3 linked regions of the Homo sapiens genome follow. The protein of the gene in region 3 interacts with the protein of the main gene of each other region in a pairwise test. Each region holds a gene or a part of one and is shown on either strand. Other genes may lie near its edges. The genes, in order: UBE2W, UBE2U and MIB1.

What was found.
Region 1: the proteins of MIB1 (region 3) and UBE2W interact in a two-hybrid assay, tested with the Homo sapiens proteins (one large-scale study listed by BioGRID and IntAct).
Region 2: the proteins of MIB1 (region 3) and UBE2U interact in a two-hybrid assay, tested with the Homo sapiens proteins (one large-scale study listed by BioGRID and IntAct).

Annotation. Positions count from the first base shown.
Region 1 is NC_000008.11:73,785,569-73,788,797, forward strand, and holds the end of UBE2W (ubiquitin-conjugating enzyme E2 W), read right to left. Parts: 3' UTR 651-3,229; downstream 1-650. UniProt on the Homo sapiens protein: Accepts ubiquitin from the E1 complex and catalyzes its covalent attachment to other proteins.
Region 2 is NC_000001.11:64,259,084-64,262,740, reverse strand, and holds part of UBE2U (ubiquitin-conjugating enzyme E2 U), read right to left. Parts: intron 2,139-3,657; coding exon 2,047-2,138; intron 1-2,046. UniProt on the Homo sapiens protein: Catalyzes the covalent attachment of ubiquitin to other proteins.
Region 3 is NC_000018.10:21,845,276-21,848,932, forward strand, and holds part of MIB1 (E3 ubiquitin-protein ligase MIB1), read left to right. Parts: intron 1-1,668; coding exon 1,669-1,850; intron 1,851-3,657. UniProt on the Homo sapiens protein: E3 ubiquitin-protein ligase that mediates ubiquitination of Delta receptors, which act as ligands of Notch proteins.

The sequences.
Region 1 (3,229 bases), on a different chromosome or scaffold from region 3:
ATATGTAGTTTTTCCAACCCTGGCACCCATCCACTCTCTTTTAGAGACGGAATCTCGCTCTGTCCCAGGCTGGAGTGCAATGGCATGATCTTAGTTCACTGCAACCTCTGCCTCCCGGATTCAAGCTATTCTCCTGCCTCAGCCTCCCAAGTAGCCGGGATTACAGGCGCCCACCACCACGCCGTTATTTTATTTTTAGTAGATACGGGGTTTCACCATGTTGGCCAGGCTGGTCTCAAGCTCCTGACGTGATCCACCTGCCCAAAGTACTGGGATTACAGGCGTAAGCCACTGTGCCTGGCCCATCTTTATGCATGACAGTACTTTTCACAGACATGTTTCTTTGATAATCAGAAACTATCTGCACCTCTTAAGGCTTGTCACATTTTATATGATATGCTTTTCTATTTATTATCTCCCTTATTACATATGCCCTTTGAAGATATATACCTCATCTGCCATCCTTCTTGGCATATGAAAGGCACACAATAATTATCTGCTTAATGCTGGTTTTTAAACTCTATGTCAGGTTTACCTTTATGATTTTATGGTTCCTGAGATGTATTTAGTTTAAAACAATTAATTTGTGACAAGCAATTTGCCTCAGAGATAAAGATATGAGAAACACCTATAAAAAAAGCCAAAACCAATGAAGAATGATTAATGATTTATTTAAAAGTAGTTTTCTCAAACTCTCTGGGATAGAAAGAGCAGGGTCCTGTTATACATTTTACTCAGGTGGTGGTTCTGGATATATGTTTCAAAATAGCTAGCACCTAAGTTTCTTTGAGAAAGCTAGGATAAAAATACAAGCATAACCAAGTTAATTCAATACACACTTATTAAATGCCTATGTGCTACAGGTACTGTATACTAGGTACTGTGTGCTACGTGCTGGGGACACAAACACAATTGCAACACTGTCCCTACTGTTAAAAAGTTCAGGATAGATGACTGGTAGGGAGAGAAGAAAGGACAAGGATGATAACCTTTCAGCTACCTTTGAACTAGACCTTTCAGGTAGAAACGCAGATCATGAACATTCTAGGAGGGAAGAACATTAGCAGACGGCAGTGGAAGCTTGCATTGCTACTGCTTATGAAACAAGGTTTGTGGACAGCTGAAGAGCAGCCTAGGGACACCAAGGCCAGGTAGTGAAAGGCCCTAATGGTAAGGAGACTGGAGAGAAGGTAGAAATCTCAGAGACATTTTAAAGTTACACTCAACAGGACTTGAAAAATGCAAGGAGAGGACTACTGAGTATCATTGCTTGATTAAGTTGGATGGGAATGTCATTAAATTATAACAGGATAAAAGAAATATGTTTTCATTGAGGTATGGAAACATAAAATTTTAATGTTGAATTGGCTATCTGCAGGATACAGCCATCTATATTAGGATCTTGTCTAATGACATATATTCACCCACATTAAGTCCCTGAAGGCCAGATACAGACATGAGAAGATATTTCCTACCTTAGTTGATAAACTTTCCTTATTATTTCCATAATCCACTTAACTGTAAAGGGCGTAGGGATTCCCACTTATGTATTTTGCATTATGCAGGCAAACATTAAAAATAAATCTTACAGGCAACTAAAAAAATGGTTGAAAGGGGCTCCCAACAGGACAGATAACCACAGTGGCTTTGAGCTTTGTTGTCCAAGTACACAAAACTCTTAGCTGTCTCACTTGCTTCTTCAATTTAGCTTATGTTTAATTTTGTTACGTGTTATGTTAGTGTGAAAATGAGTAAGAAATATAGGGAGGACATAAACAGAGTCACTTATCCAGGGTAGCTTAAACTAATGGAGAAAAGTCAAATCCTACTATGGAAAGTAGAAATTAAGGATTATAATAAAGGAAAAGGGCATCATCAAAGTACAAAAGATGGTTCATATATTTATCTAACCATCTACTAACATAGTTGTGTAGGACGGCAGGAACAGCTTGAGACATGATCGTTTTTATGGCAGAATGGCTGCCTCAATGAGGACTAAGGTGCTCCTGGGGCAAGCAGATCCCCTGCAGAAAAGCTTAGAATTACCAGCAGAGCATATTTAATTCCTCCTGTCAGGAATAACAGATGCTGAGATAGCCCCTTCTTGTGGTTATTTCTTTCCTCTTCTTGCAGCTTCAAGAGTCACTCATTTAAGTCATTAGTTGATCTGTTTGTATACTCCAGAAAGCATCCAGAAGTTCTTAGAGTATGCCCTTAATTGTACAACTTGAAGTTCAGGAACATCGGACTCACGATAACTCTAAGCAAGTGCCTGGGTCTCCATTTCCATCTTCACTGAAAACACTCAGTCTTTAGTTGGGACTTATTAAAACACTAAAACTAGCTACATATTACATAAAGGTGATGTGTTAAATAGATGGTTTAAGTGACTATCTTCATTCTGTTGCACTCATTTTGGAAATGGACATGTTCCTGTTTCTATAATCCTTTAAAATTCAGTCTTTTGTGAAGAGAAACTACTGTACAAATACTTTTACGTCATAAACCAAAAAGAGGTCTGGTATCTATCCCATTTAGTATTCAAGTCTACAGAAAAAATCCAATAACAACTGCTTTATTATTAAAAGTTATGAAATTCCATAAAGCAAAGTAATCTGCATTCAACTAACAAGTCTGATACATGTATTAAAAAATATATAACATAGATTTGTCTGTTTTAACATTTATATTCTATTTAAAAAGTAGTGACTTTACATATTTTGCAACTTGAGTTTATAAAATATATACATCCACCCTATTCAAATCCTCAAGCATGAGCTTTCATTCCTATTAATAAAATGCACACTCTGTAGTTCTGAATAATAAAAGGAAAATGGCACCAACTAAAACAAACAAATTCATTTTGACCTGAACATGCATTTAGTTTTTGGCTACTAATCAACCCAATAATCCATTTTACCTTGAACCTGACCACCAATTTGCCTTTACATAAACAATCTGTGGTTAACTATGAAAAGATGCATTTTCATGGTATCTGACACAATTTACCAAGTTCCTTATGGTAGATTTCAGGCTTTAAATTGTAAGTTTCAGGCTTCAAAAGAGGCAGGATTATTAAATCTTTCCATACACCAGAAAATCTGACAAGTGATGTCATTTTGAAATCATGCTTTTGCCTTTGAGAAAACAACTTAGAATTGTTGTAGGACCAATGAGAAAACAACTTAGAATCGTTGTAGGACCATCCTTTTCTCAAAACCCAGAGAGT
Region 2 (3,657 bases), on a different chromosome or scaffold from region 3:
TAACCAATAAAATAGGATGCAAGTGATAAGGTCTCACTCACATGATTATGTTACATCACATATGACTCCATCTTGCTATCAGACTTGCTCTAAAGACTCTTGCTGGATAAAGTAGGAGGCCAGGCTGGGAGAGCCCATATGGCAAGGAACTGTGTGCAGCCCTCAGCAGCTGAGGGAGGCCTCCCACATATACCCAGCCAGAAGCCAGGGCCCTCATTCCTAAAGACAGAAGAAAATGGATTCTGTCGACAACCTCACTGGGCTGGGAAGCAGATTCCTCCCCCATTCAAACCACTAGGATGAGAATGCAGCCCAGCCAAAGCCTTGATTGCAGCTTTCTGAGACCTTAAGCAGAGGATTCAGCTAAGCTGTGCCTGTACTCCAGGCCCACAGAAACAGTAAAATAATAAATGTGTGTTGTTTTAAACCATTCAATGTGTGCTAATTTGTGACACAGCAATAGAAAACAAATAGAGCATGATACGGCTATGGTAGAAGTGCTATGATAACCCACAAAGAAAGTTTCCTAAAAAAGGTAATACCCGAACTGAATCTCAAAGGATGCATAGGCATTAGAAAGTAAAGAAGGGGAGAGAAGAGCATTTAGAGTAGGGGTATGAGAAAACACAGTGTACTGCTCAAATTTTTTTATGAAATGAGGTAGGGAACAAACAATCATGACCCACTAGCTTAGTGTAGCATTTAGGTTGTGAAGGGGAGAGGGAGGGAATGTCACTGCAAAGACAGAGACAAGTATTAGAGCATTAAGGATTTTCTGTGTCAAAGAGTCTAAATTTTATCCTGAAGGAAAATGGGAAACAAAGTATTTTAGACCTGGTAAAAACATAAGCAGAGCTGAGCTATAGAGACATAGCTTTGTCACCAGTCTGACAAAGCATAGACAAAAATTACTGTAATCACATCAACTTAACCAACTGATCTCTTCCACTGGTGAACATGGTGGGGATGTTGAAAGACAGAGATTGCAGAGGGGAGTAGGGAAATCATGGAGAAAGCAAAGAGCAAGGCTGGAGAAGGCAACATTTCCTACCTCACAGGTACCCTGAAATCTGGAAGAAGGGAGAGTTGAATGGAGAAGGCTGAGGCTGATAATACAGAGGAGGAAATCTGCGTGGCACACCAAACAATTAGGAGGGAGAGAGGTGGATACTGAGCAGGGAAAAGAAACTTGGAGATACGGGGGCAGGGCCCTTGGAGAATCACTGAATGAAGGTGATTGCCTGTGCCTGGCATTTATATGCTGTTATGTTTAGTGGCCAGGTGACAGGAAAAAACAGTAACTATTTTTTTTTGTACTTTTCAGTTCACAAAGAAATTGTCTATACATGGAGTCACTTAGTCATAAGAATCCTGTGAGTAAGGGCAGATTTTTAGCAACTAGGATTTGTTGAACATCTTCCACATACACAGTACTAGCTAAGGATGAAAAAAACTAAGTTCAGAGGTTGAGTGACCTTTCCATAGTAGCACAGAACTGGAATCTGAACCTAAGTTCTCTATCCCCAAATGTCATGCTTTCCCCTCTATACCAGCTGACTTCCATGGTAAGTTACCAGCTCTCCCGGCTGAAGACTCACTCTCAACCTATCCCAACAAGTAAATGGTAATTTTTAAAAGAGCACGAAAAACAACTCAGCATTGTTTCTTTCTTTTCAACCATATTGCATATACCTTTGAATATACAATGAGTTTTAGGGATCAGTTTATTAGTGCTCTGTGTGTTTTGGCTGCTTTTTCATATTTTGAAACTTAGCCTTAAAATTTCAAATTGTATATCAACCTATTAAAGGGTAGTAAGCTTGAAAATATAAGTAACTCAATTCTGTCAAAGTTCCAATTCCTATGTGACTAATTTACCAAATTAATTTGGAAAGTCAGAAAAAGTTAAAGCAACCTTAAAAGGAGAACACAAGGATTAGCCCTCATATATTCCAACTTACTTAAATGGAAAAAAGTTTAAAGTTATGCATATTATGCATAATATGTTATTTATAAAAGCAAAACAAATAGAGTGAATCGATTTACTTAGAGTTGGGCAGAGCTTAATTTCTTCCATTGAGTGAGTGACTTCATGAGGCATTCTTTTTCTAGCAAGCCAACACTTGATAACGGAATACCTAGAAAGAGAAAAAGAAAACTAAATTCCCAAATGAATTTTGGTAAGGGTATATTTACTTCTGAGAAAAATAAGTGAAACAAATGAAATGAAACATAAAAGTAGAACAATAGGCTTTGAATATGGAACCATTCTGAGTCTTGACTAATTTAATGGTAAAGTAAAATTATTTCAATATGTGCTTTCCAACAGAATAGAAGTTGGAAAAGCAAATGAATATGACATGTTTACTACTTATGTCATAGTAAAAAACATCATAGTAAAAGTAATAAAAACATCATGTGGTATAGCAAGGTATATTAGTTTCCTTGGGCCACCTTAACAAATGACCACAAACTTGGTGACTTAAAATAACAGAAATGTATTCTCTCATAGTTCTGGAAGCTAGATGTTGGGGATCAAGGTGGCAGCAGGGCCTCCCTCCCTCGGAAAGCCCTAGGGAAGAATCTTCTATTGCCTCTTCCTAGCTTCTGCTGGCTGTCAGCAATCCTTTACATTGTATGGCTTATAGCTGCATCACTCCAGTCTCTGCTTCCAATGTCACATGACCTTTTCCGTGTGGGTCTCTGTAGTTCTGCTCTCTTATAAGGACAACAGTCATTGGACTCAGGGTCCACCTAAATCTAGTATAGCCTCATCTTAACTAATTACTATTTATATCTGCAAAGACCCTATTTTGAAATAAGGTCATATGCTGAGGTTCTGGGGGGACAGGTGTTTGTTTTGTGGGGACATGATTCAACCCACTACACAGGGGAGAAATTCTATCAGAAAAATTAATGACTCATCCTGGATAAAACAACAGGCTTATGGGAGACATCAATGAGCCCAAGTCAAGCTATTAGAGCATTTCCTTGGAGAAAGAGTTTACATATGGAAATCAAAAATTTTACAAAATTTTTTTGGGGGACGACTACTTTTTGGGGTACATAATGAAAAGAAAACTTTTGGCAACAAAGTTTTCTTGAAGAAAAGTAGGTGGCATAGAAATGTTTTTGTCAAAAACAAGAAATGGGGAAAGGATTCCCTATTTAATAAATGGTGCTGGGAAAACTGGCTAGCCATATGTAGAAAGCTGAAACTGGATCCCTTCCTTACATCTTATACAAAAATTAATTCAAGATGAATTAAAGACTTAAATGTTAGACCTAAAACCATAAAAACCCTAGAAGAAAATCTAGGCAATACCATTCAGGACATAGGCATGGGCAAGGACTTCATGACTAAAACACCAAAAGCAACGGCAACAAAAGCCAAACTTGACAAATGGGATCTAATTAAACTAAAGAGCTTCTGCACAGCAAAAGAAACTACCATCAGAGTGAACAGGCAACCTACAGAATGGGAGAACATTTTTGCAACCTACCCATCTGACAAAGGGGTAATGCCCAGAATCTACAAAGAACTTAAACAAATTTATAAGAAAAAAACAAACAACCCCGTCAAAAAGTGGGCAAAGGATATGAACAGACACTTCTCAAAAGAAGACATTTATGCAGCCAACAGACACTTAAAAAAAT
Region 3 (3,657 bases):
CTGGGATTACAGGCATGAGCCACCACACCCAGCCCTTTTCATTCTTCTAATAGTGATTTGGAAGAGTCAAATTTTTTAATTTTGAGGAAGTCTAATTTATCAAGTTTTTCTTTCATCATTTGTGTTTTTTGTGTGTGTTCTGTCTGAGATATCTTTGCCAAACCCAAGATCGCTAAGGTTTTCTTTTATGTTTTGTACTAGAAGTTTATAAAGTTTTAGCTGTTATGTTTAGGTCTATGATTCTTTTTGAGTTAATTTGTATATATTGTGTGACATATGGATCCAGGTTTATTTACTTGTGGATATCCAGTTGTTCCAGTGCCATTAGTTGAAAAGACTTTGTTTCTTTTCTTTTTTCTTTTTTTTGAGACAGAGTCTTGCACTGTTGCCTGGGCTGGAGTGCAATGGTGTGATCTTGGCACACTGCAACCTCTGCCTCCTGGGGTCACGCGATTCTCCTGCCTCAGCCTCCCAAGTAGCTGGCATTGCAGGTGCACACCACCACACCTGGCTAATTTTTTGTATTTTTAGTAGAGACAAGGTTTCACTATGTTGGCCAGACTGGTCCCGAACTCCTGACCTCATGATCCGTCTGCTTCAGCCTCCCAAAGTCCTGGGATTACAGGCATGAGCCACCACACTCGGCTGAAAAGACTTTCTTTTTCTACTGAATTGCCAGTATACTTTTATCCAAAATCAGTTAATTGTTTATGTGAAGGTCTCTTTCTGGATCATGTATTCTGTTCTGTTGGTCTATGTTTTTAGCTATTTGATACCAGCCCCCAGTCTTAATTACTGTCTACATAATACGTGTTGAAGTCAGGTAGTGTCAGTCCTCCAGTTTTCTTGTTTTTTCGAAGTTATTTGACTATTCTAAGTCCTTCACATTTCCATAAGAATTTTAAAATCATTTTTTAGAGGGTAAAAAGGTTCTGAGACCAAAGTGTTTGAGACCTCTGCCTTATTTATGACCATGGGTAAGTTCTCTTAGCTCGGTGTGCCTCTTTTTTTCTCATTTTAAAATGGGAAGAGGAGAGCACTTACCTCGATAAGGTTGTTGTAAAGATCATGGAAAGTGTGTAAAATAATACTTGATCCATTTTAGACACTCAATAAATGTTAACAGTTATTGTGACTATTTTCACATAAGATGATGAGAAGAATCTCAGATAATATTATCAGAACCTAATTTGTCTCATTCTCCGTATCTTGGCTCAATTCCTAGTCATTGGTTCTTTTCTCAGTTGTCTCTCCTGTCATTGTTTCAAGTTGGTTGCTAGCTGCTCCAGAGCCAAATTAATTAGGAAAGAGAGTACTGTTTCTTTAGTATCTCAATCAGAAGTTCCACTTTTGAGTTCTGTTGGGCTTAATTGACTTGATTTGTGTTATGTGTCCATCCCGGTTCTAGCCATATAGGTAAGGTAGAGGTATCTGACTGGTTTGGGCCATGTTTGGTCCACCTCTGCAGCTGGAGAATGTAGGTCCACCTCTACAACTGGAGAAAGCATACTTGTGTGTATGCTTGAGAAAACCAGGGGTAGAGTGGTGGGGAGGGAACATTAGGACTAGAACTCATAAGTGTCCACCACACACACATACATATATATGATGACAAGAATTGATGGCAGATTCCTAGAGGGAAAATCATGACTCTTTATTTTATTGCAGTTAATAATGGGACTTGGTACCCAGGGGGCAGAGAAGAAGAGTGCAGCATCTATTGCCTGTTTCTTGGCAGCCAATGGTGCTGACCTGAGCATTCGAAATAAGAAGGGTCAATCGCCACTTGATCTCTGTCCTGATCCGAATCTCTGCAAAGCACTGGCAAAGTGTCATAAGGAAAAAGTCAGGTTTGTATTATTTATTATCATAAAACTTAATATTCTGTACAGAAAATATCATGTGGTTTCGTAATGGAGGACGTGGCTACTTGAAAATGTCTTCATCTTTGCTCTTCCTGTATATTTGTGTTGACCCTTTCTTTCCTGAAATTTTTCTTCCTTGAAAATTTTTCTGCAGGCAGCATGTCTCTTATTTTATGCCATATTCCCCACATTATTGAGTGCAATGCTCTATACTTAATAAGTTCTGAGAAACTTTTCTAAACTAGTCTGATCTTCTAGTACTCCCATGTGTTAGAGGGATTTATGAGAAAAAGTCTTCTAGTAAAATTGCTGTTGTTAATGTTACATGTATTTTAAATTGTATTTATTTTTTATTGTATTATTATTATTTTTTAAAAATACGTCTTGCTGTGTTGCCCAGGTTGGGCTTAAACTCCTGGGCTCAAGCAATCCTCTTGCTTCATCCTCAGTAGCTGGGACTGTATGCATGTGCCACTGTGCCTGGCTCTATATTTAAAATTTAAATAGAATCTTCCTAAGACAGGCAACTTATACTCCATGAACAGGGTATATCTCACACAAACTGTAGCACCCTGCTCAGTGCCTGACAGGTGCACTCAGTATCAGTGGAGAATGAACAAATGAATGCACCAAGTCCTGGTGGAGTTTTCTCTAAAGATGATCATTTCACATTTGTCTCTTTTTCTGAAAGATATGTCAGTGATTTTAATTATTATTTATGACATAACTAATTTCCTTATGAGATTTTATAGATGTACAAAAAGGTACACATCTCATTGCTTTTTTAAATCTGAACAGTGCTGTGCAACTGTTGTTGCCCTTTGTACCTGGTTCTTGTCACTGAAATTTCAGTAGCTGTTCCTTAACCTTAGTGTTCCTTGCCTCTCTCATAATTTATGTGTAGTGATGAAATGTCATCTCTTTGGAATCTGTGCATAGAACTGTGTTATAGAGGAAATTAATATAGTGAGGTATATACATTTCTTTAAGTGTATTGTTAAGGAACATGAAATTCTATTACAAAAAGAGAATGCATCGGCCGGGCGTGGTGGCTCACACCTGTAATCTGAGCACTTTGGGAGGCCGAGGCAGGTGGATTGAGGTCAGGAGTTCAAGACCAGCCTGACTAACATGGTGAGACCCTGTCTCTACTAAAAATACAAAAACTAGCTGGGCGCATGCCTATAATCCCAGCTACTTGGGAGGCTGAGGCAGGAGAATTGCTTGAACCGGGAGGCGGAGGTTGCAGCAGTGAGCCGAGATCACACCACTGTACTCCAGCCTGGGCAACAAGAGCAAAATTCTGTCTCCAAAAAAAAAAATCTATAAATATAAAGATATAAGGCACTATAATTATTGCAGTAATAACTTTTAAACAATGGAGTCTAAGGTGGACCCTCTGTGTACGTGTTGTGTACGTGTTCGTGAGTTTCTGAAGATTGTGGTAGAAACAGGGCATCCCTTTTCTGTAGCTGTAGGTGGTCATATGTATTTCTGTTCCTTGTATCTGTGTTTACGGATGCAGTCTATCTTTCTGTAATATAATTTTATGTTCCTTAAGGATACACTTAAAAATGTCAAAACAGCAGCTGAAGTGTTAAATTTTCCAAAGTGCCCTATCTGTTGTGGACTCTGATGATGCTTTGTTCCGTCTTTAGTAAGGCAACTAACATGGGGGCTAGTGAGGATTTTTGTTTTATTCCTATGCCTTCCTCTGCTGGTTCTATATAGATACAACAGGTTCTGAGCAAAATTTTGTTTATGCTAAGTTTTTTTTTTAATTGCTGTTTTT